7 linked regions of the Homo sapiens genome follow. The protein of the gene in region 7 purifies or fractionates together with the protein of the main gene of each other region. This does not show direct contact. Each region holds a gene or a part of one and is shown on either strand. Other genes may lie near its edges. The genes, in order: DDX42, PRP4K, GALM, GNA12, ARHGEF28, TKFC and AKAP13.

Region 1 (4,273 bases), on a different chromosome or scaffold from region 7:
GTTGTATAGGCAACCAGGAGTCATCAGTGAAAGCAGTTTCAATGGAGCAGTAGGGACAGGGTTGAGGAGTACCTGGCAAGTAAGTAGTAGAAGATGAAGACTAGGTCAAGAGGAGTCAAGAGTACTTTGTAGGCTGTTTATCAATGATAGGAAGGAGAAAGTGAAGCATTACCTACAGAAATTTTATTTTTTAAAGAAACATAGGCATGTTTATATGCTAAAGGGGAAAAACCAGTAAAGTCTGAAAAACTGAAGATGCAAAATGACAGAAAAAAGTCATAGGATTTCCAGAGAAGACCAGACACAATCAAAACTTTTAACAACAGGAGTAACTCACTCTTCCCCCAAAGCTAGAGGGAAGGAGTGAAAAGAACAAACATGACTATGAATCAGCCCTATTAAATAATCAAAAGGTTCATATTACAAAAGCAGCAAATCAACTCCTGCCACAAACAGGCAGGCAGTGAGACCTTGGGCAGGTGAGGGTTGCTTACTGGCTCTCAAGACTTAGCAAGTTGGAAAAGCGATCCTTTCCCTAGCTCATCTAGAACACACAGCTCATTGTCCCTCAATTACTGACTCTAGGAAGGCCAAGGAACTGTGCTTTCTATATACCCTGAGTAGAATGTTAGCTCTATGAGGGCATAGACTTGACTCAATTTGTCCAGCACTATATCCTTGGTGTCTGCATAGTACTCAAAAAATTTTGCTGTATGAATAAATGTAATGTATTCAGGCTCTCCAAAATTCATCCCAGTATTTATGAAAACTCTATTTTATTACTACAAACCTTGTTATCTAGCTAACCACCCTTCCTGATTAAATCTAAGCCAGATCATCCTCAATGGATCATTACTTAAGTCTCTTGACAACAGTTTTTCCTACTTTTTTTTTTTTTTGTTTTTTTGAGACAGTTTCGCTCTTGTTGCCCAGGCTGGAGTGCAATGGCGCAATCTCAGCTCACCACAACCTCCGCCTCCCAGGTTGAAGTGATTCTCCTGCCTCAGCCTCCCAAGTAGCTGGAATTACAGGCATGTGCCACCACGCCTGGCTAATTTTGTATTTTTAGGAGAGATGGGGTTTCTCCATGTTGGTCAGGCTGGTCTCAAACTCCCGACCGCCGGTGATCTGCCTGCCTTGGCCTCCCAAAGTGCTGGGATTACAGGCGTGAGCCACCGTGCCCGGCAGTTTTTCCTACTATTAAACCATGTAGTGTATATGGTTACTGAACCTTGACAATCACAGAGATTTGTGGGAGTATAGCTGACAGAAGAAGCAAAAGATAGCCACCCAAATTTCTATTTGGTTACTAAAAAAATAAAAGAGGCAGATGCAGTGGCTTACGCCTATATTCCCAGTACTCTGGGAAGCAGGAGGATGGCTTGAGGCCAGGAGTTTGAGACCAGCCTGGGCAACACAGCGAGACCCCATCTCTACAAAGAAAACAAAAAGAAAAAAAAAAGAGATACCTAGAATAGTCAAACTCAGAGACACAGAGTAGAAGAGTGGTTGCCAGGGGCTGCGAGGAGGGGAGAATAGGGTGTTATTGTTTAATGGGTACAGAATTTCAGTTTTACAAGATGAAAAGTGTCCTGTGGCTAGATTGTGGTGATAGTACCAAAAGAAGAAAACAAAATGAGGTGGGCACAGTGGCTCACAACTGCAGTCCCAGCACTTTGGGAAGCCAAGGCAGGAGGATGGCTCGAGCTCAGGAGTTAGAGGTCAGCCTGGACAACAATGAAAGACCTGATTTCTACAAAAAATACAAAAATTACCCAGGTGTGGTGGTGTGCACCTGTAGCCCCAGCTACTCGGGAGGTTGAGGTGGGAGGATGGCCTGAACCCAGGAGTCGGAGGTTGCAGTGGGCCGAGATCATGCCAATGCACTCCAGCCTGGGTGACAGAGTGAGACTGCGTCTCAAAAAAACAAAACCAAAACAAACAAAAAAAACACACTTGGGGAAATTCAACTGCATTTTTGTATTTTTTCTCTTAAAAAAGATTTCTTCATTTCCTGCTGGGGTGCCAAAAAATAAAAATTTAAAAAAGAACCCTTTTGAAATACCTAATTTGAAAAGAATTAGCTGAATAGAGCCATAAACAAAGTTTAATGAGTATTTGTTTAAAAAAGAACAACCCTAAGTGGTTCTTAGTAATAACATCCATTGTTTTATACTGACCAATAACCACTGATGATTTTGTTATGTGCCCAGTACTATGAGGGACATCCCTCACGTATACCCGCCTTTCCATCTCCACCTCCACTATTGCAATTATTTCCTAAAAAAAAATTTCTGATTATTGGGAGGCCGAGGTGGACGGATCACAAGGTCAGGAGATCAAGACCATCCTGGCCAACATGGTGAAACCCCATCTCTACTAAAAATACAAAAATTAGCCAGGCGTGATGGCGCGCACCCATAGTTCCAGCTACTTAGGAGGCTGAGGCAGGAGAATCTCTTGAACCCAGGACACGGAGGCTGCAGTGAGCCGAGATCGTGCCACTGCACTCCAGCCTGGATAACAGAGCGAGATGCTGTCTTAAAAAAAAAAAAAACTTTATTATCAAGCTCTCACAGCACTACTAGAGTGATCACTAAGTCAAAATATACTGAGTGCCTATTTTGTGCCAGTAACTGCTCTAAGGTGCTAAGGATACAGTAATGGAATCAGATGCAGCCATACTCAGAGTTCACAGTCTGGCCCAGGAGAAAGAAAAACTAAATCATGTAATTCCAGGTAGCAAAAGTGCTATGAAAAGCAAGCAAGAGGGTAAGAGGCAAGCTATTGCAGACTTAAGTCAGGCAAGGCCTCTCTGAGATGAATGACATTTGACAGGTAATCCTCCCCTGACTACTGTCCCAAGAATGTCTGTTTTATTGGAAAAGTAATGTGGATGTACATCCAGATGCTTCATCTAAAACCAGCAAATCTTCCATAGTCTATGAGAAGTGATTCTGTTTAGTAAAGCATAAAATGATGAAGTAATAGTGAGACACACAGTGAAAAGAGAAAAGCAAGTTTTACCTCCTTTGGTAGAGTAGCATAGTGTGTGTTAATACCGTGGAACCAGAAAAAGTCTCACAGAAGGGAGGTCAGTATTCAGATGCTTATCGAAAACCCTTTCCAGGTTCTTCCAGAACACACATTTCTGATTATGTCACTCTCCTCAATTCCATAGCTCTCCACAGTTAATCATGCTGGAATGAGACCCTCCATTGTGGCATCAAACTACTTTACCATTCATATTTCCCAGGGTCTCTCCACACGTACTCAGTTTTCCAGGAAAACAAGCACTCTAGTGAATCCTCTTCCCTCTAACTGGATCCCCTTCACATCAAATCTCTTTCCTATAAACTGTGAGTACCTACCAAAGTCCTATCCTTCAAAGCATATCTCAAATACCAACTCCTAAAGACATGAATATGATATCCCCAAAGAAATGGCATCTCCTGGCTGGGCACGGTGGCTCACGCCTGTAATCTCAGCACTTTGGGAGGCCGAGACGGGTGGATCACGAAGTCAGGAGATCGAGACAATCCTGGCTAACATGCTGAAACCCCATCTCTATTAAAGATACAAAAAAATTAGCCAGGCGTGGTGGTGGGCACCTGTAGTCCCAGCTACTCCGGAGGCTGAGGCAGGAGAATCACTTGAACCCGGGAGACGGAGCTTGCAGTGAGCCAAGATCGCGCCACTGCACTCCAGCCTGGGCGACAGAGTGAGACTCCGTCTCAAAAAAAAAAAAAAAGAAAGAAAAAGAAATGGCATCTCCTTCCTCAAACTCCCTTTCCAGTCCAACTCCGTATTATAGGATTCATGGCTGAAGAAACAGGCTTATTCACTTTTCTCTTATAGCATGTTTTCAATATTAGATACTCATTTATTCAATATGTAAAAGACTAAAGGAGATCTACAACTAGGCTGAAGAGAAACAGTCAAGATGGCATCAAGTCCTATTTGGTATGGTTCTAGGCACTAAATCCTATGGCTGGCTGGGCAAGGTGGCTCACACCTGTAATCCTCGCCCTTTGGGAGGCCAAGGTGGGAGGATCACTTAAGGCCACGAGTTTGAGACCAGCCTGGGCAACACAATAAAACCCTGTCTTTACAAAAAAATTTAAAAAATTAGCCAGGCATGGTGGCACACGCCTGTAGTCCTAGCTGCTCAGGAGGCTGAGGCAAGAGGATTGCTTGAACCCAGGAGTTCCAGGTTACAATGAGCTGACTGGACCACTGCACTCCAACCTGGGCAACACAGCAAGACAGTCTC
Region 2 (4,273 bases), on a different chromosome or scaffold from region 7:
CGAGGTGGGCGGATCACGAGGTCAGAAGTTCAAGACCAGCCTGGCCAACATGGTGAAACCCTGTCTCTACTAAAAATACAAAAATTAGCTGGGCATGGTGGTGCGTGTCTGTAATCCCAGCTACTTGGGAGGCTGAGGCAGGAGAATCGCTTGAACCCAGGAGGCAGAGGTTGCAGTGAGCCGAGACCACGCCACTGCACTCCAGCCTGGCAACAGAGCAAGACCCCATCTCAAAAAATAAAATAAAATAAAATAAATAAATAAAAATAAAGAAAATAAAAATGTTCACCCTCACTAGTCACCTAAGAAATTTCGATTAAAACAATTTTTGGGTTTTTTGTTCTGTTTTTAAGAGTGACAAAATACTATATGGTATCCTGGTAATAAAGGTTTTCCTAAACTTTCCTAATACAGTTTCAGGAAAAGGGGCAGTTCACATAGTCATAGAAGTAGAAGTAGAAATTGACCTAACTTTCCTGGATGGAAATTTAGCAATAACTTTCTACAATGTAAATGTACATACTCTGAGACTTTGCAAGTCCACTTCTATGAGTCTATTCTATAAAGAAACCTCACATATAACCAAGGCACATCTTCGCATATAATAGTGAAAAACTGGAACCAACCTAAATTTTTCATCAGTTTCAATAGGAGAATGATACTATAATACATCTACACTGAAATACCAGTTGCTGTCAGGCAGAATGAAAAACAATCTATATGTTTTGTCGCAGAAATGTTTCCTGAAAAAAGCAAGCCACATGTGAATATGAATAATATGACTCCAGTTTTGTTAAAAAAAAAAATTCCCTTATATTCATGTTATTGTCTGTACAAGGAAAGACCTAAGATAAAGTAAATTTCTAAGGAGTGGTAGTGGAGAAATGAAAAGGGAGACAATTTACAGGCTTATTTGGATTTCTCTTTAATAAGTAAGTATGCATCACTTCTGTAATTTAAAAAAATATTTTTGTTTCAAATACTCAGCTCTAGTCCTTAATAAACTCCTCAGAATTTGCTCTTCAAACAAAGCAAACTGAAAGACCACCAAGATAATTAAGAAGCACTTGAGATAACAGAATCAGTAAAACTAATCACTGCCTCAATCCAGGAAGCCAAAGGAAAAAGGGGCTATTTCATTACAGTGCCACTCAGAAGTAAAGAATCAAGACGCTCTTAAGACACAGCACTTGGAAATAAAATTTGAAATTTCTCTGAAAATATGATGACTTCACTTTCAGGGTGAGTTTATATTTATACCCATTCACAGAAAATATTATTATGAACACAGTAAACGGCTAGGAATTAATAACATCCTTATATAGTATAAGCCAATACTCTTTTAATAAGCAAAACCTAGCTGGCAATTTCATAATACTTAAATACTAAATACAAAAAAGACATTAAGAAATCTGTTTCTAAAGTAGTTTAAGTGGTATAAACACTCCTCCCCGCAAATACTTCCGTTCTATGATCCTACGTAAATTATATACATTCTCTGATTCTATTTCATTTATAAATTAGGTATGAGAGCCCCTTCACCTCATGAGTTAAGATAATCACATGAGGATTTATAAGAACTAAGACAATATATTATTCAAATAGTACAAAATAATTTCATATACTATTCTTCTTAAGCTTAAGAGATACTACTTTTCAACAATGAGATTATATGTATTAATACAAAATTTTCCATTTTAATTATACTTTGGGGACCAAAAAATATTGGTATTGGTTTCTATTTATACTGTTAAAATTTAAAACTCATGCAAATACAAGAGAATGAACAGAACACAATTGTTAAACTGATTACCTTTCCCCCTTTTCAAAGTTAAGAGTTTCAGCCTACACTGTTCATGAAGTAATAATCCTCTCTCTAAACGCCCCCAATGAAGATTTATCAGCCAAATTACATGGATTGAAAGGAGTGCCTTAGCAAACTAGGTATTAAATCAAGAATGTGAAAAAACCCAATTCTATCATCAAGCTCAGTATTTGTTAAACACCTATACTTAAAATACTCATCGAAAAAAGTGCAAATATTAACATGGTTAATGGATTGGGTTACTTAAAATTATGAAACTCATTACTACTTCATTTATTTTTATTTTTACTTACTACTTCATTTTTAATGGTCCACAAGTTCTAGTTTTCCGTTTAAAATCTCATGCACTGGTAAAAAGCTTTAACATTTTGTACACAAGTTACCTTGGAGAAGAAAGTCGTCTCCTCTCTGGTTCTCGTCGTTTTCTTTCTAAGGATCGGCTCTTGGCTCTTCTCCCAGGAGACAGTGTCCGCGAGGGGGATTTGCTCTGCTTAGATCTTCTATCATTCAAAAGTGGAGACCTGCTTCTTCTTGATTTATCACGTGGTTTTGGAGACAAACTTCTTCTTTTAGGACTACGACCAGGTCTTCTGCTGGGTGACCTATTTTCTTTCCCAGATGAAGCATCTTTAGAGGGAGATTTAATTGGCTTCTTTTCTTTATCAGTTTCAGACCGTTTTGATTTTCTCTCTTTGGACCGTGACCTTCTGTCTTTGGATTTACCTCTTAAATCAACTGGGGATCTGGATTTTTTACCTCGATCGCGACTTCTACTTTCATTTATAATTGGGGATTTTTTCCTATCTTTTGATTTACTTTTATCTTCAATTTTAACCTTATCATCAGTAGGAGATCTGGCCTTACCAATTTTCTCTTGAGATCGCCTTCTAAGGGTAGGGGATTTTGATTTCCTTGCTTGATCTTGAGACTTACTTCTTTTGGATGGGCTTTTAGATTTTTTCCTCTCCTTTGACTTGCTCCTAGTTGTTTTCTCTTTAACGATTTCAATACCCCCCTTACTTTTCTTTTTATCAGACCTATGTCTAGTCCGTTCTTTGGATCTGCTTTTACTTCGTTTCTTTGTAGTAATTTTATTGTCCACAAGTTCAAGTTTCCCCTTTGTACTTGAAGATCTAGTACTAGACCTATTTCCATTTCTTGCCTTTTCATGAATTTCCCCCTCTTCTTCAGAGCCAGACTCATAACCTTGCAAAATGAGCCCCATACCAGACTGGACCTTTCCTTCCATTAACTCATTATCAAGTTCGGCCTTAATCAAGGCTCTCTGTTTTTCCAAGTCTTCTAGCAAAGCTAAATCATCAAGTTTAGTTCTTTTTGCTGGAGACATACCCTCTTTATCAGAAGCATCAATAATCTCTTTTCTTTTGTGTTTCTTATGTTTATGCTTATGTTTATGTTTTTTATCCTTGTCTTCTTCTGAGGAATGTTTATGTTTCTTATGTTTACTTCTGTGTTTATGCTTCTTTTTTTTGTGACGACTGTGCTTATTTTGAGACTGGTCTTCTGATACTTCTCCATTTTCTTCATTTATACTCTTTTCAGAATTAGCATCTTCCATCCTATAAATATATCAAACACATTTTAAAATCATATCATTTATCAAGTATTCAAAGAGCCATAAGAAAATAACAGTAATGAGAAAATACATCTCAATGTAATACATGAAGTCAGTCACTAAAATTTTTTCAGAACAGCTTCAGACATTTTATTTCAAAGAAGGTCTACGGCAAGAACTGAGTTGGATAGTGATACAACTTTATTGTGTTTCTAATGGTTGAACTCACCAAAAGTATTAGAGGAAATCCCTAATGGAGTGAGCTTAAAAAGTACAGGTTAGAGAAAAAGGGAAAAGCAAACCAGGCACAGCAAAACCTCATTAACATTGATTTAGTACAAGAAGCCACTCAGTAACTTAATTTTTAAACCAACATTTCTCACACATTAACAACCAAAGGGCCCGTTTTCTTTTTTAATAAGACCTACTAACTATTAACATACACTGGAAGACTAATCTCCTTCTCCACTTGAAATTCATGAAACTTGGTGTCTCTACAGTAAACCCAGCAGGTCACTTGTTTTGAGCAGATTTCATCTTATACCTTAAAAACAAAGCAAAACAAAACAAAACTCTAGAGCCAATACTGAGCTATACCCAAAATAAGCACTCAATCAATGTGCATTGGTAGCTGATACTGATGATGGTGATAGTATAAACACATCCTCACAAGTTGAATCTTCAAAGTGAACTAAACCGGAAGTTAGGACTCTAGGCTTGTAGTAAGCAATCATACGACATTAGGCTGAACCACATGGAAGGGCCTTTTGTAAGTCAACAAGTCTAATATCAGTAATTTAATACAGTACAGCCCAATATTCATTCAGCAAGTGATTTAATCTCTCTGAATTTCAAATGAGAACTCAGTTTCC
Region 3 (4,273 bases), on a different chromosome or scaffold from region 7:
ACTGTCTATCTGTCTCAAAGCAGACTTAAAGTAGGTAACATCATCCTCATTGAATAATGAAAGAATGGAGGCTCAGTGAGGATAAACCGCTTGCCCCAGGCCACACAGCTAGTGTGTGGCATTGGACTGGATCCTGAGACTGTTCCCTTACTCTATACTATCAGGGGATGAGTTGGCCAGAGATTCCCAGTGCCTTTAGAGAGCTCTGGGATCACTAAAGAAGGGGCCTGTTGCAGGCATGAGACCTCCAACTTGTTGAGTGCTCAATAGTCAATGACCTGGTGCTTTACATAAATCATCTTGCAAGGTAAAGATTTGGTTGCCCAAATGAAATGACCATCATTGTAGGTCAAAACAGTTGAACACTGGCAATTTCATGTGGCTTCAACAAATATTATTTACCTCCATTTTACAGATGAGCAAATTGAGTTCAGTGGAGTTAACTTATACCCACATCTACCTTCTACATTCCTAGTGTGTGTCGGGGGCGGTGGGGAGTTTCATACTACCTGTCCATTGTTTAGAAGGAAAAAAAAATCTTGTTTAAAGTCACACATGTGGCCGGGTGCAGTGGCTCACACTTGTAATCACAGCACTTTGGGAGGCCAAGGCGGGCAGATCACTTGAGGTCAAGAGTTCGAGACAAGCCTGGCCAACATGGTGAAACTTCGTCTCTACTAAAAATACAAAAATTAGCCACGTATGGTGGCTCATGCCTGTAATCCCAGCTACTCGGGAGGTTGAGGCAGGAGAACCACTTGAACCTGGGAAGTGGAGGTTGTAGTGAGCCAAGATTGCGCCACTGCACTCCAGCCTGGGCAACAGAGTGAGACTCCGTGTCAAAAAATAAATAAATAAATAAAGTTATACATGTTATTTGTGACAGAGCTGGGGTTCAAACTCAGGACTGGCTGTCTCCTCTATTCCACATCTTAGTCTCAGTGAAGTTTTTGTCTGAATCTTCCTTTTCAACAGAAGAGTTGAGGCCAAACTCTATGGACTTGAAAGATAATAGCCTCTGTGGGCCACAGGAGTGGTCTCTGAGCCCAGGATCTGTCCACTTTGCTCTCACAGACGTGGCATTTGCCAGGAAGGAGAACCCAGCAGGAACGGAGGTCTCTGCCTTCACCTACAGTGAAGGCAGCTGGTATGTGAAATACTTTCACTGAGCTTAGTGAAAAATTCATTTTACACCCTAGTTAGCTCCCAGAAAGGTTGAACTTTCAAGACACTCAAAATATGAAGCCTGTTATATGTGTAATTAAAAAAGAAATAGAATATCCCAAATGGAACATTTCAGGAATTAAATAATTGAAATGAAATCTTAACTTGCTACCTAGTTTTTCTTTTGTAGAGAAAGGACACAATGGAAAGATTTTTGTGTAAACCAATATGATTGGTTAAGCATAATTCCTATTTATGGAAGGATTTCCCTGAGCCTGTAGTTTCCAAATTTCCAGAAACTCTGCAGCTCTAGATCTTCTTATACCATTTCAAATCCTATTCAACTGTCATCTTAAAAAAAAATGTGTTGGTGGCCGGGTGCGATGGATCATGCCTGTAATCCCAGCACTTTGGGAGGCCGAGGTGGGTGAATCACCTGAGGTCGGGAGTTTGAGACCAGCCTGACCAACAAACCCTGTCTCTACTAAAAATACAAAATTAGCCAGGCATGGTGGCGAATGCCTGTAATCCCAGCTACTTGGGAGGCTGAGGCAGGAGAATTGCTTGAACCCAGGAGGTGGAGGTTGTGGTGAGCTGAGATGGCGCCATTGCACTCCAGCCTGGAAAATGAAAGCAAAACTCTGCCTCAAAAAAAAAAAAAAAAGAGTTCAAAGTCTTTCCCCACCCCTCTCAGGGCCACTGTGCAGTCATTCTCTCCCATATCCATGTATTGAATGAAATGCTATTGGCTCTTCAAGGCCAGTTCCAATCCTATCTCCTAGGCTGCTATTTCATTTGTTCACACATGTTCCTGTCTTCTCTGGCTTGTTATGGTGCTTGTGGCCATTCGCCTTTAACAGTTATCATGTAAGAGTCCATCTCCCTCTTTATACTGTGAGCCTCAGGAGTCCTTGGCCTACTGTGCCCCCTGCTTCACAGAAGGGGCTCAAGGGCACACTGCACTGAAGGCTAGGTACACTCACGATTTTGCTGTGTTCTTGAAGGGAATATAAGTTAAGCAACACCACGGAAAATGCCACAGTGAACAGGGGGAGCAGGGGCAAGCTAGAACGAGGTGCTGTCCTAAGGCTCCTCTGAAGATCCCTGTCTGAAGCCAGGCTGGGCCTTACTTTCTCTGGTTGGGGTTTGCTCATGATCCTGGCATGTTCTAGAGACTCTGCCCTAATACTGGCAGAGCACATGCTGCCCTCTGCCTCCCTGGCATGAAGAATCCCATCACTGAGGAAAGGGAAACCCATGGGGCAGTCAGTCTAGTTCCAGGCCACCAGCAGGAAGCTCATGGAGGCGGGGAAGCCTCCTTCTGCAGGACAAGTGGTGGTTAGAGGCAGAAGAGAAGAAACTGTGGCCATTAGTGGCCATACATGTTCCTGTCTTCTCTGGCTCTTCTCTGGCTCTTCTCTAGCAAATAACCTGGGTGGTATAATTTAAAAGAAAGTTAACTACTGAAATTTACTCCTGCACAGCCTGAAATTAGACTAGTAAGAGAGCAATCACTGGGGTTAACCCATAGACTCCCATGGGGCTAGGAAGCAGGAGGCCAAGCACTCCCACCCCAGGGAGAAGCTGTTCGATCAATTTGCTTTCCTGACCTTGTTTTCTAGGGATCTGCTTAAAGAATGGTCGTTTTCATGTGGAGAGGAGGAACTGGGGAGAATCTGATATGATTTTGAGGCATGAGGCACTTCAGTGGAAGGGCAGGCCTTGGTGCAGCGCCATGCTGCATGGGGCGGGGGGCTTAATGACAGGTACAGGGAAGCATGTTGGACGGGGGCACCCATGCAGCCTGGGTGGACACCAGCAGCTATGGTGTAAGAATGAGTGTTTTGGGCCAGGCAGCCCTGGTTGTCCCACTTAGGAGTCATGTGGCCCTTTATTTATTATTTATTTTTTATTTTTTTGAGACGGACTCTGGCTCTGTTGCCCAGGCTGGAGTGCAGTGGCGTGATCTCAGCTCACTGTAACTTCCACCTCCCACATTCAAGCGATTCTCTTGCCTCAGCCTCCAGAGTAGCTGGGATTACAGGTGGCCGCCACCACACCCAGCTAAGTTTTGTATTTTTCGTAGAGACGGGGTTTTACCATGTTGGCCAGGCTGGTCTTAAACTCCTGACCTCAGGTGACCTGCCCACCTCGGCCTCCCAGAGTGCTGGGATTACAGGCGTGAGCCACTGTGCCTGGCCATGTGGCCTTTCAGTGCCTCGGTTTTCCCATTTAGTGATAACACAGAGTTTTAGTAAGAGTAAGAGATAATATATGTCAATGTCTTGTCCAATAAGTGGAAGATACTGTTATCAATCCACATCTCTTCAACCCGACTCCCTGATCTCAACACTGTGAGAAAGTTGTTTCTCATTTTTCCTAAGTCAAAGGTTGACATCCTTTCTCTTGGGGCTCCCCTGTCTGTTCCAACAGATGAACTAGAGAAGGATGGGTCCTAGCACATGCCCATTGCACCTGCTGCCCTGAACCATGGAAGGGGCCTCTTTCCTGCATCTCACCACTCATGTGCTCTAGGGCCTATGACTGTGCCTGGCAAGCAGAAGGTATGCGTAAAGTGAGCCTAAAGGGAACTCAGTCACATGTGCCGTACTTACTTTATCAAACCCTCTGACTCCTCCATGCAGACTGTTGGGTTCCTTGTTAATGGCCAGGTGATACTCCTTCCCATCCACCTTGAAGGTTCCTTTGGCGATTCGGTTGGCCACCCTCCCAATAACTGCTCCAAAGTATGGCTGCTTTTGGAGGTATCCTGCAAGGACAAGGGATGACAGCACTTTTAAAACTTCAATTCAGGCTGGGCACGGTGGCTCACACCTGTAATCCCAGCACTATGGGAGGCCGAGGCAGGCGGATCACAAGGTCAGGAGATCGAGACCATCCTGGCTAACACGGTGAAACCCTGTCTCTACTAAAAATACAAAAAAATTAGCTGGGCGTGGTGGCCGGCGCCTGTAGTCCCAGCTACTCGGGAGGCTGAGGCAGGAGAATGGCATGAACCTGGGAGGTGGAGCTTGCAGTGAGCCGAGACCGCGCCACTGCATTCCAGCCTGGGCGACAGAGCGAGACTCCATCACACACACACACACAC
Region 4 (4,273 bases), on a different chromosome or scaffold from region 7:
CTCTGAGCTGTGCAGCCTGAGTCTGTCTCTTGGTTTGTTTGTTGTGATGTGGAAAGTCTTAACTCTCAGCAGTATAACCTCACCAAGACAGACGCACATGGCCGAGAGCAGTGGCTCACACTGTGAGCCTCCCCTTTGGGAGGCCAAAGAGGGAGGACTGCTGGAACACAGGAGTCTGAGACCGGCCTGGGCAACAGAGCAAGACCCTGCTTCTACAAAAAATTAAATCAAATTAAAAACAGCTGGGCTTGGTGGTGGCACACCTGTAGTCTCAGCTGAGCGGGGAGGATTGCTTGAGCCCAGGAGGTCAAGGCTACGGTTATCTATGATTGCTGCACTATATTCTAGGCTGGGCAACAGAGCAAGACCCTGTTTCAAAAAAAAAAAAAGAAAAGAAAAAAGAAAAAAAAGAAAACAGATGTACATAAGCACCACAGAAAGAAGTCTGCTTTCTGCTATCATTCATTTGCAAAGCTACTGGAAAAAAGACAACTGGGCGGGGAGGAGGTGGCAACAATTTCAGAAAATTTCACTGGAAAATGAAGTGTATCAGTAAAAAAACAACTTTTTTTTTTTTTTTTTTCTTAGATGGAGTTTCACTCTTTTTGCCCTGGCCTGGAGTGCAATGGAGTGATCTCGGCTCACTGCAACCTCCGCCTCCCAGGTTCAAGCAATTCTCCTGCCTCAGCCTCCTAAGTAGCTAGGATTACAGGTACCTGCCACCAGGCCCGGCTAATTTTTTATTTTTAGCTGAGATTACAGACCACCACGGACTGCTAATTTTTGTATTTTTAGTAGAGAGGGGGGTTCCACCATGTTGTCCAGCCTGGTCTCGAACTCCTGACCTCAGCTGATCCGCCCGCCTCAGCCTCCCCGCCAAAAAAACAATGTTTTAACAACAACTATAGTAGCCTCCACCCCTTATCCGTGGCATAAGTTCCAAGACCCTCAGTGGATGTCTGAACGGTACCAAGCCCTACCTGTATTGTTTTTAAAGTTTAATTTAATTTATGAATTAGGCACAGTAAGAGATTAATAATAGCTAATAATAAAATACAACAATTATAACAATATACTGTCATGAAAGTTAAGTAAATATGGTCTCTCCTTCTGTCTCTCAAATGTGGTATCACCGTCCGCGCCTATTTTCCGTTGGCGGCTGGCTGTGGATAACGGGAGATGACTGTACTGCCAAGAGTACTACCAGCGCTACTATTGTCATCATCACTGAAATCTGGCAGCTCCTCTATTCCAAAAGATACAACTGCTTCTTCCAGCTTAAAACGGGTGGGAAAACATACAAATCCAGGCAGTCAGCAGTCATGAGACAGGAAAAGACTAAAATACGACAAGCCAAGTAGCCCGCCCACCAAAACGGGAGCCAGGGGATCATGTTCTAGATTTAACGTCACCATCGTTTGTGATGAGAAACTACTTTTCATTCTTTTGCTTGTTTCCTCATTGTTAAAGATAAAGTTAATGTTGTTCTGCCCCTTCTTACCTCATCAACAGGGTCAAAGGGATGAAGAAATAACTAACATAGTATTAGGGAATGCAGCCAGCCTTTGGAAAATATTCTCTCAGCAAAAACAGCACCCCCTGAGCAGTTAGGAGGTCTGTTCCACCATCCTTAGACTAATGTTTCGAAATCAGCAAGGCAGTGTTTATGAGAACTTCTGTGTTCTTCTGAGGGGCACACTGCATACTCTCTGGTATGGTCTACACTGGGGGTATACAGAGTGGTCAAGGGCCCTGAGAAGGCTATCAAGTACACATCTGTCCATCTGGAAAAGCCTTCTCATCTCAGAGCAATCTGAGGGACTCAGGCCAGCTGAGAGCAGCATCCCATCCTCCAGGACAGAGAAAACCAGGGTCACCTGCTCACTAGGCACTTATCTATGTTCCTTTTTTGGAGACTGGGTCTTGCTCTGTCACCCAGGCTGGAGTGCAGTGGCATGAACATGGCTCACTGCAATCTCGACCTTCTGGGCTCAAGTGATCCTTGCCCGTAGCCTCTCAAGGAGCTGGGACCACAGGCATGCCTCGTTACGCCCGGCTAATTTTAAGATTTTCGTAGAGTCAGGGTCTCACTATATTGCCCAGGCTAGTCTCAAACTCCTGAGCTCAACTGATCCTCTGGCCTTAGCCTTCCAAAGCACTAGGAATTACAGGTGTGAGCCACTGCATCCGGCCTTTTTTTTTTTTTCCTTTTTAAATAACAGTTTTACTGTGCTATAATCCATGTACCATATAACTCATCAATTTGAAGTGTACAACTTAATGATTTTTAGTTGGCACTTATCCTAAAAATCTTCATTTCTGACACCCAGGGCAGAGCAGATGAATCCATTCTGCCTCCTTCATCTCTCTCCTGCAGCATCAATTTGGTGCCTATAACTTCCACTTCTGCCTTGAACCACTGAGTCAGACGTAATGATGACCAAAGAGTAGTTGAAAGTCTCCTCCAGACCCAGCTGACCAGGACGGTCTGGTTAGAGATGCTCCCTGATTTTCCCCTCAGGACCTTGTCTGTCTGCCGTTGGAGACCATGCCTAGTTCTACCAATCCACAAACATTTGTTCAGTGTGTTTGTTTGTGGGGGAAACAAACTTTAAGAAGCAGTATCTGACCCCCAGAAACTCAGAGTCTGGCTAGAAAGACAAATGTATGGATAAAAAAAATACTTACCACCCACTCATGATTTTAAAAAACCTTTGCAAACTAGGAACAGAGAAATGCTTCAACTTGATAAAGAACACTGACAAAAAAACATACAGCTAACCTCATAATTAATGTGAAAGACTGAATGCTTTCCCTCCAACACTAGGAAAAGACAAAGATGCCTACTTCTGCTACTGCTATTCAACATGGTTCTGGAAGTTCTAGCCAGTGCGACAAGGTAGGAAAATGAAATAAAAGATCACACAGCTCAGGAAAAGCAGGGGGGAAAACAAATAGATTAGACACACAAAAAAAGAAAACACACAACTAAACCCATTTGCAGATAAAAAGATGATCTATGTTGAAAATCCCAAAGTAATCTACCAAAAAAACTCCTAGAATAAACAAATGAATCCAGAATAGTTGCAGGATATAATGTCAACACACGAAATTCAATTGTCTTTCTATATACTAGCAATGAACATGTGGAAAGTGAAATGAAAGATGTACTACTACTAACTATCACTAAAAAAACGAAACAGGTATAAATCTAACAAAATATGTGTAGGACTTATGTGCTGAAAACTGCAAAATGTTGAGGAAAGAAATTTTCAAAATCTAATAGATATACCACGGTCACGAATTAGAAGATTCAACACGGTACCAATATCCTTAAATTAATAAACAGGTTTAGCACAATTTCCATAAAATCCCAGCAGGATCTTTTGTAGATATAAATATGATTATTTGAAAATTTATATGAAAAAGCATTAAATTAGCTAAAGCAACTTTGAAAAAGAAAAGTGGGAACAATCAGTCTATCTGATTTTAAGACTTATTATATAGCTATGATAATCAAGACTGTGTGGTATTGGTGAGGTGACAGACCCACAGATCAATGGAACATAACAGAGAACCCAGGGATAGCCCCTGATACAGCTAGGTAATTTTTGTAAAAGTGCAAAAGCAATTAAAAAGAGGAAGCCTGGTCTTTTCAACAAACGCTGTTGGAGGAAGTGGACTTCCACAGGTAAAGAAAATTGGGGGGAGCGGGGGAGGGGGTGGGGAAGAACCTTGACCTAAACCTCACAGCTTATACAAAATCAAATCAAAATGTAGAACTATATATAACATAGGAGAATATCTTCAGGATGTAGGGTGTGCTCAAAGTTCTTAGATGTGACTCCAAATACATGATTCACACGAGAAAAATTATCAATAAATTGAACTTGATGAAAACGAAAATATTTTGCTCCGCCAAAGACCCTCTTAAGAGGCTGAAAAGAAGCTATGAACTGGGAGAAAATATTTGCCAACCACACATCTGCCATATCTGACAAAGGACTCATTTAGAATATACAAGGACATTCAAAACTCAACAGTTAGGCCAGGCACAGTAGCTCACGCCTGTAATCCCAACACTTTGTGAGGCTGAGGGGAGAGGATCACTTGGGGCCAGAAGTTCGAGACCAGCCTGGGCAACATAGTGAGACCTCGTCTCTACAAAAATATCAAACAAATTAGGCAGGCATGGTGGCACACGCTGATAGTTCCAGCTACTCAGGAGGCTGAGGCATGAAGATAGCTTGAGCCCAAGAGTTTGAGGTTACAG
Region 5 (3,420 bases), on a different chromosome or scaffold from region 7:
ATTTGAAGAAAGACACTTGCTGCAAACCATTTTCCCTGCACTTGTTCCACTGACCACTCACCCTCAGGCTCAGCCATATGGCAAAATTACAAATAACCAGCTTGTGTTAGAACAAAAACCTGAGTAGGAATGGAAGTCCAGGTGGGAAAGGAGGGCAAATAGCTCTGAGGCCCACCTGCTTATTTTTCAGTCATTAAGAAGAGGCCACATACACCTACTACAAACTTATAAAAATTAAAATTAAAAAAAAATTTAAAGAACATAAAGAAAAAAAAGAGGCCATTGTAACCCTCGCCACATTTTCTTCAAAGCCTCTATTATTTAGATGGATATACACACGTGCAGACATTCCAATGACACAAATGCTTGTGGCCTTTGCCCTCCTGACAAGGATCTTTGGTTGCTAGAGAAGGCAGTAAGCAAGGCTTGGCAGGAATGAAAGGAAAACTCTTCCCAGAAGGCTCCATCTTTGGGGACATGGTGGCCTTGCCACACCTCATTTCATCCCATCTTCCAGTAGGAGGTGGGTCAATGGAGGAGGAGCAGCCAGGGCCACAGGAGCCGATGAAGGTCCCTGGAGGAGCTGCACCAAGGCTGGACTGTGCCTCTGAAGCAAAGGAGGACCCTCAAGGCAGGGGAGGGGAGGAAGAGAGGTAGGGAGGCATGGGGGTGAGGCTGCAACCACAGCTCTGCTCAAAGGCTTAGCCCATCCCTGACCCTTTAGATGCCAATAGGCACAAAGCTTGATTCTACTGCCCCTGATCCTAAATGCTGTACCTCAAATTCCAGGAACTCACTAACAACTGAAAGCATACCTGCAGAAGGTGCCTCTAACTGCCACCATTTACAGAGCACAGGAGTTGTCCCAGGTCTTTTACATTCGTCATCTCTCTCTAAGTCTCAAAATGCTAAAACCCACAATTTACAGGCTGGGAAACCGAGGCTCAGGCTAGTGAAATTCTGACCCACATCATGCAGCTAGGAAGTGATCTGGATCTACGCTCAGAGGATGGCAGCCACGTGATGACTCCTTGCTCTAATGATCAAGACTCTCGTGCTTCTCATTTCTCTTTGTGCTGAAAATGGCTTGGCCATCTTTTCTGAATTAAGAGATCCTCAATGTTTAATACTTTCCCTCCCTTACATACTACATTTTGAAGAGTCACTTGCCAAAAAAAAGAAGAAAGCAAAGGCAAAAAAAAAAAAAAAAGACATATTAATGTTAAGCTTCTCAAAACTGACACAGCAATTGTTATAGAACTAGGAACCTCCCTTAATCGGGCGAACAAAAATATTCCCAGGCAATGATTTCCTTGTCAGGGCAACATTACAAATCAACCTGGAATGCTCTGAATCCTATTTTACCACACTGGGAGACAAAGCATGCCTGTGGTCACAACACGCAGTCACACTTCCAATTCCTTTTCCCAGCCATAGACTGAAGCTATTTCACCTCTAAATACAAATATGCACAGCTAAATTGCTGATGTTTAATTTTATACAACTTCAAAAAAATGCCCCCAAATTTCCATCGAGCAGACACTGGCAGACTGAACAGGTCACCAAAGCCACAACAGTCCTGCCTCCTTACCAACAGAAGGGCCAGCCAGAGCACAAAAATTACTACATTGAGGATGAAAAATCATCCAGTGAATGAGGCAGCTGGGAGGTCATTGCTGACACATCTGACAATGCCGGACACACTGGAAGCCCTTAATCTATGTAGGTTTTCTTCATCTGGGGTGTGAAACATGGAGCAAAAAATTCAAAATAGTGATATTTTGAGGTACATGGAAAATCCCCTTAATGGCTTCAAGAGAAGACTTGTTCAAAACAGCCAAATTGAATATATATCAGAAATAACTCTTTTTTAAGTTACATTGTATGCTCTACTTCAAGAAGATACAGAACCAAGAATGAACGGGGATGGGGATGGGGAGTTGTGTGTGTGTGTGTGTGTGTGTGTGTGTGTGTGTGTGTGGTGTAGTGTAGAAGTTTAATCAGAACTTTTTCAAATAAGAATAAAAATACAGGAGAAACACATTCCTAGGTGAGAGCTTGTTGTGCCCTAAGGTGAACAGCCCATGTTGTAATTCCAGATGTATTACTGGAGGTGGTTGTGGTTGTATGTCACCTGGACGGGAACTCAATTTCCTTCTCCATGTTCCTTCTTGGTTTCTACCTGAACTATGTAGGCAAGGTCAGACAGTCTGTCTTTGAAATTAGAAACCGTTTGGTGATTTCTGATTTTGTTACTCCATTTCAACTCTGAAAGAACCAGCACAGCAATTGTATATTTCTCAAGGCCAGCCACCTTTTTCCACACTTTTTACCCTAGAGAATATGATCATCATATAGAACCCTAAACTGAAAAAACATTTGTTAATATTAAACCTCACTGACTCAGAAAGCAGAATTCTTGCTATATAAAAGTAATCACCCAGTTTCATTTGTGATCGAATTGCCTGTAAATCGATGGACATAAAAATGTAATAACATATTTCTAATAAGCAAGGAAATAGCAATACAATCATAATTTGGTCAACTAAAAACGAATATTATTATAATGAAACAAAACTCAAACTACAAAAAAACATTTCAGCCAAGTATCTCAACACAATTTTGCCTCTTGACATAAAAGAAATAATTTGATCCCTAACATTATCTCTGGAAACTAAACAGAGCGAGCATTATTAACCTTTAGAGCAAATAAGCTAAAACACATAAAAGCCCCAAAGCCTGACTAAACCAAGTAGAAAAGTGGGATCTTGATTGAGAGTTTTTTCTGCTACATTACTGAGCTTTTGTTCACAAACTAAAATTTCAGCCTCTGCAGGAAACTTCGATACTCACATTATGAGGACCACCGTGGGGGGTCTAAGTTAGTCTCCTAACATGGTTTCAAAAAATTACAGGTATCCACATTTTGGCTGGCACCATTCCTTTTCTTTGTGGGCATGTGGGACAGGAAATAGACTGTCAAGAGACACACCTGCAGACAGCACTGATATCCAGAGAAAGTTTCCTAAATCTCCCAATATTTAGCCCTTAGGTGCAACCTGCTGGTTGGAACTTGCATTTATCATTTTTCACACTTTTCTCTGTTTACCCAATACTGACATTTCTAACAGTGAAGAGAAATCAGCCTTCCCTCCATTGGCTCACCATTATCATCATTCTTTTGAGCCAACTGACTAGTTGGCTATTTTCAAGACCAGACTATCATCTCAGTGCATAAAATGCAACTATGTGTCATATTTAAAATGAACAAAGTGGCTGGGCATGGTAGTTCACGCCTGTAATCTCAGCACTTTGCGGAGCCAAGGCAGGAGGATCACTTCAGGCCAGGAGTTTGAGACCAGCCTGGGCAACATAGTGAGACCCTGTCTCTACAAAAAATAAAAATAAAAGTAAAAATAA
Region 6 (4,273 bases), on a different chromosome or scaffold from region 7:
AGGCATCTCCAGTGCTGACATGAAGGTGCCCACCAGGGCACGGGCAATCTTCACCCCGCGGCCCTCTGCAATACCAGAGTGTGGCAGTCCAAAAGGGAAAAATGGGCATCAGGGAAAGAAAACAACAGAAAAGCAAGGACCTTGGAAGCTGGGGCTCTGAGGTCGGGAGGGAGATGTCCTGATTTCCTCCTGGCAGGCATCCCTCAATAACCCCACAAATGACCACGTTCCCTGGAGGTGTCCCCTACGTCGGGGAAGATGAGTAATTACAGGTCTCATTTACTCAGTTCGTGCCAGGTGCTGGGCGCTGTGTTGAGTGTCTTACATATGTTTAATCTCACTTAATCCTCAAAACAACGGTATAAAGCAGGTACCATTATTATTACCCCCAATTTGCAGACAAGAAAACAAACAGAGGCTCAAGGTATCCGGCAATTAGGTGGCAGAGAGACGATTTAACTCAGGCTTATCTGACGCACAGTCCGTGTTCTCTGCCATCACAAGACCCTCCCTCAGCCCTTTCCAAAGGGCTGTAGGATCCCCTTCCCAGTGCATGGCTCACCCAGGGAGCGGACGGTAGCGTCGGCTATGATGCCCAGTTCCAGGAATGACAGGCCACCCAGGTTGTTGACCATCATCACAACTGAGGAGCCTGCGGGTAGACATGACACCCCAGGTGAGACCCTCTGGGCGTCTCCTCCCCAGAGGTTTAGGAGGGGTTGGGAGACGCGGGCGAGAGGCTACCCACCGGGCTGCACAGGCACATGGGACGCGTTGGTGGTGTTTGTCATGTGGTCGAGCATGAGTTTCACAATCTCATCGGCGGTTGCCATCTGTCAGAGGGAGCCAGGAATGAGCTGCATCTGGGGGGCCTTGGCCTTAGGGCGGCCTGTGCCAGAGGGACCACCTACCTTTATCCGGCGCACACCAGCTTCCCCGTGGATCCCTGCGGATAGATGTGGTCACTGCTGACCCACTCAAGGCCTGGGGATTTGCTCATCGTTTTTATCAAGGACTCACACAGTGCTGGACTCACACAGTAAGTGGGCGGGAGTGGGGGATGGAAATGGACAGAATAATGAAAAACACGATCTCTGTTCTCTGGGAGCTTGTGGCCTGGTGGTGGAGATAGCTTTAACTAGAGATAGTTAAGGAGGAAGCACAGGCGAGGAAAGAAAGCTTTGCAGCCAGGTGATCTTTGAACAGCCGTTGAAAGAAGGGTGTATTCTGGCAGGGACAGGAGGACCTGGGAATGGCAGGCAAAGGCTAGGAGGTGGGCAGTGCACAGAGCTCCACATGGCCAAAGCTGTGGGTATAGACAGCAAAGCAGGTAGAAATCAGGCAGGTTGGCCCAGGCTGGGCCTCAAATGACCAGGTAAAAATACTAAGACCACCTGGGGAGAGGACCAGGTTGATGGCTCTAAGGGTATGCAAGGTGGGCAAAGTCCAGGGCCAAGGAGCAGGCAGGGCTGGGATGGATGGCCACAAGCTTACCCAGGCCCAGCTCCACCTCGTCGGCTGAGAGCTCGAAGGTGGGTTTGGAACCAGGGACGCTGCAGGAGGATAAGCTCACCCCCAGGGTACCTATGAGAAACAAGGCATGAAGGGATGACTGTTCCACTCTTAGCACTGGGCATCAGGAAGGGTGGCAGCAGCATCTCAGAGGCCCTGCCCACAGGTACCCTCTTCTCTGAGAAAGGCTGCCAGACTCTCCACCTCAGCCATGGTACCCAAGGCCACCAGTCCCCAGGAGCTCCCCCAGGGATACACTCCCTAGACCCCTGGGGAATAACCTGGGGAGCACCGCTAGGCAGCCAACAGGAACCTGCTCCTCGCCCCAGGGCTGTCCAACCTTCCCCACTCTCTTCCCCAGCTCCCAGGCCAGCACTCACCCATGGCCTTGGCGACCACGTTCACCTGCTTTGCGATCTCCTCCAGCCCCACACCAGCCTCAGCCAGAGCACCTGCCACCTGCAGCCACAAAGAGGTAAAAGCCCCAGGGGGGAGGGTATCACTGTACCATGTGGGGTAGAAGACAGGCAGGGGATGAATTTCTTGTTGGGAAGGGGGAACCTCAGGATTTTCACACTCAACCTGGCCCATCACATTTAGGGCAGAAGAGCAAACTCCCCTCATTCACAGTGTACCTGCCAGGAATCTTCAAGAATTCCAGTCTGTTGGAGTCAGAAGAGACTTTACAAATGGGGAAATGGACCCAGAGAGGGGCGGTGACTTGTCCAATGTCACACAGCCAGTGGGTGGCCAGTTTCCCAACTCTAGAGTTCCAGAGTTCTCTCTCCCATAGCCTTGCTATTTTGGGTCACTTTACCCATCTATCCATCCATCCATCCACCCAATTTTTACCAAGCATCTAGTATATGCTGAAAAGGAAAAAAGGCGACTAAGTCACAGTCTCCACCTTCAAGAACTCACAGCCTGGGGAGAGGCTAGGGAAGCAGATACCCATAAATTGAAAATTTATGTGAGGTGGTAATTACAGTGATGGAGTCCACACTAGGACTGGCTGCCAACCAGCTCAGGGTAGTGGGGAGATGGAGATCAGGGAGAGCCTTCCAGGTGGGGAGACATCAGAGCTGGGCCTCTGTAGAATGGTAGGAGTTAGCCAGGCCAAAAGGAGGCTGGACAAGGAAAGAATTTTCCAGGCCACAGATACTGCATAAGCAAAGCCAGAGATGATCCATAGCCTGGCAGGTACAGGAGCTGGCGTGAAGAGACCATAAGAGGAAGGCAGGGGCCGGGCGCGGTGGCTCACGCCTGTAATCCCAGCACTTTGGGAGGCCGAGGCGGGTGGATCATGAGGTCAGGAGATCGAGACCATCCTGGCTAACAAGGTGAAACCCCGTCTCTACTAAAAATACAAAAAATTAGCCGGGCGCGGTGGCGGGCGCCTGTAGTCCCAGCTACTCGGGAGGCTGAGGCAGGAGAATGGCGTGAACCCGGGAAGCGGAGCTTGCAGTGAGCCGAGATTGCGCCACTGCAGTCCGCAGTCCGGCCTGGGCGACAGAGCGAGACTCCGTCTCAAAAAAAAAAAAAAAAAAAAAAAAAAAAAAAAAAAAAAAGAGGAAGGCAGGGATGGCTGGGCGCGGTGGCTCACGCTCGTCATCCCAGCACTTTGGGAGGCCGAGGCGGGCAGATCACTTGAGGTCAGGAGTTCGAGGCCAGCCTGGCCAACATGGTGAAACCACATCTCTACTAAAAATACAAAAATTAGCCGGGCGTGGTGGCAGGCGCCTTGTAATCCCAGCTACTCGGGAGGCTGAGGAAGGAGAATCACTTAAACCTGGGCAGCGGAGACTGCAGTGAGCCAAGATCGCGCCACTGCATTCCAGCCTGGGCAACAGAGTGAGACTCTGCCTCAAAAAATAAATAAATAAATAAAAAATAAATAAAAGAAAATAAAAAAAAGAGGAAGGCAGGGATGATGGGAGATGAAGGTGGGGAGTCAGGGAGCTATGGTGAGGGCTTGTATTGATTGTAGGCACCCAAGAAGGCTTTCAGTGGATGAATAACCTAGTCAGATACACATTTTAAAAAGACACCTCTGGCAGTAGTGTGGAGAATGGATGAGCAAGGCCAGAAGGCAGGAAGCAGGCAGGGGAGCCCAGTGAGGAGGTGGCTGCAGCCATCAGGCATGAGTAGATGACCCCTGAACCAAGGCAAAGCAGGAGGGCGGGGTCTGAGAAGGATGTGTGTTGTACATTTGGGAGGAGAAGCACCAGGACCGGGCAACTGATTGGGTGTGGAGAAGAAAAGGGGACGAGTCTGGGAAAATGCCTGTATCTGGGCTTAGGTAGCTGAGGGGATGGCGGGGCCTTCTGAGATCAGGGAACACTGGAGAAAAAGAACTAGCTTCTTGGGGAAGGGCTGGAAAGGTCCAGTTACTGGGTGCTGCCAGGCAAGGGAAGGCTGGAAAGGGCTGGCCAGTCTCCACGTCCCCGGTGGAAGCCCACCTTGTGTATAAGCACCGTGCCGCACAGCCCCCGCCGGCCTGCCTTCTTCAGGACAGTGAAGGCGCTGTCGTCCCCAATCACCACCATCTCCACCGGGATGCCTTCAGCCCGGGCCTGCTCCCGGGCCAGGCCGAAGTTGAGCCGATCCCCAGTGTAGTTCTTCACGATAAGGAGCGTCCCCACTGCGGGAGCAGCCGGAAGGGCTCAGTGTGCTTACTGTGCCCTCCCTGCCGCAGCCCCTCCTGCATGCCAGGCTTACCTGTGCCGGCCTGGGCCACGGCCCTGATGGCTGCCAGGATGCT
Region 7 (4,273 bases):
GGAAAAATTACCTAAACACAGCCTTTCAGATGTTATGCCCAAGAGAGATGTACACATATGACGTTTATGTTATTCGTAATAAATGCTAACAGGGAGTCTGTAATGTTTTTATGTCTGGCAACAACTTTATCTTGAAGACTTGAGTGGATTATAAAATCTTTTCTGTTTTTTTTAGCTATCTTTGTACCATACAACTATTGATTTAAATATAGTAACACTATATTTAAATGGTACATATCATCGCCACTAAAATAGTTGTAAAAATACTCCTGATTAAATTTGGTTCTTGTTCTTTGGCAACAATCTCAGAAACTGTTGGTTCTTTCATTTTGTAAAGTTAAGCCAAACACAGACAAATATCCTTTTATGCCAGAAATTTAGTTCTAGTTGTTGCATATTTCTGTACCTGAAATGTGTGTCTTCCATTATTCCCAAAACCAATGAAAAAAACCTCTCAGTCCCCCTACGGCTACAACCTTAATGCTAGCTCTGATCTGTAAGTGGTAACATTTAATACTGCTAATACTGCTTTACAGGTCTCAGAATCTTTGGGGAAAGTCCTTCTTTTTCTGTTTTTGAGACAAGGTCTTGCTCTGTCACCCCGGCAGGAGTGCAGTGGTGTCATCTCAGCTCACTGCAACCTCTGCCTCCCAGGCTCACATGATCTGCCTGCCTCAGACCCCCAAGTAGCTGGGACTATAGGCGTACGCCACCATGCCCAGCTAACTTCTGTAGAGCCAGAGTTTCTCCATGTTGCCCAGGCTGGTCTCAAACTCCTGAGCTCAAGTGATCCACCTGTGTTGGCCCTTCCAAAGTGCTGGGATTACAGGCATGAGCCACTGTGCCTGGCCAGGAAAGTTTTTTTTTTTTTGAGACGGAGTCTCGCTCTGTTGCCCAGGCTAGAGTGCAATGGCGTGATCTCGGCTCACTGCAAGCTCCGCCTCCTGGGTTCACGCCATTCTCCTGCCTCAGCCTTCCGAGTAGCTGGGACTACAGGCGCCCGCCACCAGGCCGGCCAATTTTTTGTATTTTTAGTAGAGACAGGGTTTCACCGTGTTAGCCAGGATGGTCTCCATCTCCTGACCTCGTGATCCGCCCGTCTCAGCCTCCCACCAGGAAAGCATTTTTATGTTCTAATTATATCAAGGTTCATTGGAGGAGGGCGGGGACACACACATACAAAACACACACATACACATGCATATACTTAAAAATAAAAGCTTTCTGACTTACCATTAGTTGCTGTTGGATGTTCATAAGTTTAAAAATTGGTCCAGTGCAACCGTCTCCAGGAAATGGGTGTTCATGATGTGAATCAGACTCAGAGGTTAATGTATAGATGTCCAACTCTCGATGATGCCTCACAGAACAGTCTCCATACGGTATTTCATAGGATAAACTGCTCCAGGAGTCTGGTTCTCCAGCATTCTCCCTACATGCAAGCATCTCTGGTTAATATATATACATTCTGCCTCCCAGGCATAGGCTTAACGTTCTAAGTCTTACTTCGTATTTCTAACCTGATTGTTCTTTGAGGTTCAACAGCAAAAATTAGTATATATACCTCCCAAATGATTCAGGCATATAACCAATAGCTCCATCCTCCTCACAAGAGATCACAAATGGGTTAAATGAAAACTGCAGGACTCCTAGCCCTAACAATGTTCTTTAGATCAAGATAAAGAGATATGTGGGATCTAATAATAGTTAATATTATGCTAACAACCAAGTAATGAGGAAGTGCAAGGAAGATGGTTTTAGCCTGATTTTCAACAAAATCAAGGCTTATTAAGAGGTGCTCTTAAAATAAATTAGACCATATGCTAACTACAGTCAATTATAATGGCAAGAGAAGAACCACTCACTCCAACCCTTACAAGGGCACTCCAACTTTTCTAACAATAGGTGCAGAAAACACCCTCAAGATTATTGAAGTCAATTACACAAAGAAAAACTGTTACAATGACATATTGTTCAACACTTGTCAATATAATTATCATATCCTATTTGGAATAAAGCACTTGGTTCCAAGAACTTAAAGTTAAAATTCGTAAAATTTAAAAAACAAGCAAGTTTGCTCAACTCATATCATTATAAACAAATATAACAACTTTCCACCATTATACGCCAACTGATTTGAACAAGGCAAGTGGGTTTCTCCTCTAAAGGCTACAGCACCTCCAATTCCACCCTTGCATCCAGAAGGCATACCCATGCCCGTAATGCCTGCTGTGATACCACACATAATCTGCACTGTGCTTTTTTGCAGCAGATGAAAGAATCTTGGGGCATACAATAAACAGGGATGAGGCACACAATCATACCCCACACAATCTCATATTATTAACTATTGTACTTGAGCACGCATTTCAAGTGTTAAGCACCCTCTTCTACATTCAGCACAAATGTAAATGTCTGAAGTCCTAACCGTTGGTGTCACTATTCTTTCTCATTAGTTTGATACACAGTGTGGTATACAGAGTTAGAGATTTCTGGGTACAAAATTTTATCTCCTAACTATATGATGCTAGACAAATTTCTTAACTTTTCTGAGCCTTAATTTCATAATATGCAAACACAGATATTATAATCTAAGCACTGTTTTGAGAATTAGAGAAAATGTGCATAAAAAACTACATCTATGGTGTTTGACACAGAGAAATCACACACGGATACTGCCTATTCTTCCTCCTTCTACTCTTTCATTCATTTAAAAATAATTCCTAGTAAGCCTTCCCTTCTTAAAAGTAGAAAAACATATCTACTTTTTTCTATTTTTCTACTTGTATCAGAAAATCCTACTTTCTCTGAAAGCTTTAAACATAATGAAAACACTCCTCAAACAGCATTCTGATAAGGTGCCTAGCAGCTCAAAGATCAGGCACAATAATAGATTATGCTTTCCATCAACCCTTTCCTCCTTATATGAAATGTTATTTTTCCTTTCCTTACAACATTAACACCTTTGAATATCCCATATCATATCATATTTATTTATTTATTTATTTATTTATTTTTGAGACAGAGTCCCGCTCTGTCGCCAAGGCTGGAGTGCGGTGGTGCGATCTTGGCTCAATGCAACCTCTAACTCCCAGGTTCATCGATTCTCCTGCCTCAGCCTCCTGAGTAGCTGTGATTACAGGCGCGTCCCACCACGCCCAGCTAATTTTTTTGTATTTTTAGTAGAGACAGGGGTTTTGCCACATTGGCCAGGCTGATCTCGAACTCCTGACCTCAGGTGATCCACCCACCTTGGCCTCCCAACCTATATCACAGTTATTATAATCCCACCAAAGCAAACAATAGATTGGTAAAGTATCCCTGAGATTTTGGGAGGAAGGTTATATTTGAGATCATTATCATGTTTTGAAATAGAAGAAACTAAAGAGTTAAGAAATTACAGACATGCTATCTAGCCACTGAAAAATATGAGAAAGATTACTTCAACTGTCTCTCCAGTTTTTTCTACTAAGTCACACCTGTCTGTCATTAACAATTCACCTGAGACTAATTGGAATTTTAAAGCTAAAAATATGCTACAGTAGCAGCCATAAAAAAGGATGAGTTCATGTCCTTTGTAGAGAAATGGATGAAGCTAGAAACCATCGTTCTCAGCAAACTAACACAGGAACAGAAAACCAAACACCACATGTTTTCACTCATAAGTGGGAGTTGAACAATAAGAACACATGGACACAGGAAGGGGAACATCACACACCGGGGTCGGTCAGGTGGTTGGGGGCTAGGGGAGGGAGAGCATTAGCAGAAATACCTAACGTAGATGATGGGTTGATGGGTGCAGCAAACCTCCACGGCACGTGTATACCTATGTAATAAACCTGCACGTTCTACACATGCATCCCAGAACTTACAGTGTAATAATAAAAAAAAAATTTTTTTTTTAATGCTACAGTGGAAAACGTATAAGGCAATGGAAAATCATGTACTGGCTGACGGTAATAATAATAAAGTGTACTCCAAAAACTACTATTACAACTTCCATACCCAAGAGTGGCTCCCCAAAAGCAGCTTAAAATAAGAATGGCATATGCTATACTACATGTTTTACATATTTTACTAAGTTGCTATACTCTGAGTGAAATGACCTCAAACAGAAAAGCACTTGTAAAATACTCTCGACAGTTCAAAGAAACGACTCAAGAAGTCAAATAGCGGGGAGACAACTTCTCTATCAATGTAGCTTTCAAGCCTACATTGACATAGTCACTAACATGCCTTATTGTGTGGCAGACATTAGTGGCATATCTGCTTA

Evidence for each region.
Region 1: the proteins of AKAP13 (region 7) and DDX42 purify together in Homo sapiens (affinity purification with mass spectrometry, with the first as the bait; one large-scale study listed by BioGRID). This does not show direct contact.
Region 2: the proteins of AKAP13 (region 7) and PRP4K purify together in Homo sapiens (affinity purification with mass spectrometry, with the first as the bait; one large-scale study listed by BioGRID). This does not show direct contact.
Region 3: the proteins of AKAP13 (region 7) and GALM purify together in Homo sapiens (affinity purification with mass spectrometry; one large-scale study listed by BioGRID and IntAct). This does not show direct contact.
Region 4: the proteins of AKAP13 (region 7) and GNA12 purify together in Homo sapiens (affinity purification with western blotting, with the first as the bait; one study listed by BioGRID). This does not show direct contact.
Region 5: the proteins of AKAP13 (region 7) and ARHGEF28 purify together in Homo sapiens (co-immunoprecipitation; one large-scale study listed by IntAct). This does not show direct contact.
Region 6: the proteins of AKAP13 (region 7) and TKFC purify together in Homo sapiens (affinity purification with mass spectrometry; one large-scale study listed by BioGRID and IntAct). This does not show direct contact.

What each region holds. Positions count from the first base shown.
Region 1 is NC_000017.11:63,776,929-63,781,201, reverse strand, and holds part of DDX42 (ATP-dependent RNA helicase DDX42), read right to left. Parts: intron 1-4,273. UniProt on the Homo sapiens protein: ATP-dependent RNA helicase that binds to partially double-stranded RNAs (dsRNAs) in order to unwind RNA secondary structures. Unwinding is promoted in the presence of single-strand binding proteins.
Region 2 is NC_000006.12:4,030,691-4,034,963, reverse strand, and holds part of PRP4K (serine/threonine-protein kinase PRP4 homolog), read right to left. Parts: intron 3,406-4,273; coding exon 2,209-3,405; intron 1-2,208. UniProt on the Homo sapiens protein: Serine/threonine kinase involved in spliceosomal assembly as well as mitosis and signaling regulation. Connects chromatin mediated regulation of transcription and pre-mRNA splicing.
Region 3 is NC_000002.12:38,675,573-38,679,845, reverse strand, and holds part of GALM (galactose mutarotase), read right to left. Parts: intron 3,935-4,273; coding exon 3,780-3,934; intron 1-3,779. UniProt on the Homo sapiens protein: Mutarotase that catalyzes the interconversion of beta-D-galactose and alpha-D-galactose during galactose metabolism.
Region 4 is NC_000007.14:2,795,252-2,799,524, forward strand, and holds part of GNA12 (guanine nucleotide-binding protein subunit alpha-12), read right to left. Parts: intron 1-4,273. UniProt on the Homo sapiens protein: Guanine nucleotide-binding proteins (G proteins) are involved as modulators or transducers in various transmembrane signaling systems. Activates effector molecule RhoA by binding and activating RhoGEFs (ARHGEF12/LARG).
Region 5 is NC_000005.10:73,936,722-73,940,141, reverse strand, and holds part of ARHGEF28 (rho guanine nucleotide exchange factor 28), read right to left. Parts: intron 1-3,420. UniProt on the Homo sapiens protein: Functions as a RHOA-specific guanine nucleotide exchange factor regulating signaling pathways downstream of integrins and growth factor receptors. Functions in axonal branching, synapse formation and dendritic morphogenesis.
Region 6 is NC_000011.10:61,339,134-61,343,406, reverse strand, and holds part of TKFC (triokinase/FMN cyclase), read right to left. Parts: coding exon 4,231-4,273; intron 4,154-4,230; coding exon 3,972-4,153; intron 1,972-3,971; coding exon 1,893-1,971; intron 1,585-1,892; coding exon 1,495-1,584; intron 947-1,494; coding exon 912-946; intron 834-911; coding exon 749-833; intron 653-748; coding exon 563-652; intron 66-562; coding exon 1-65.
Region 7 is NC_000015.10:85,572,290-85,576,562, reverse strand, and holds part of AKAP13 (A-kinase anchor protein 13), read right to left. Parts: intron 1,433-4,273; coding exon 1,234-1,432; intron 1-1,233. UniProt on the Homo sapiens protein: Scaffold protein that plays an important role in assembling signaling complexes downstream of several types of G protein-coupled receptors.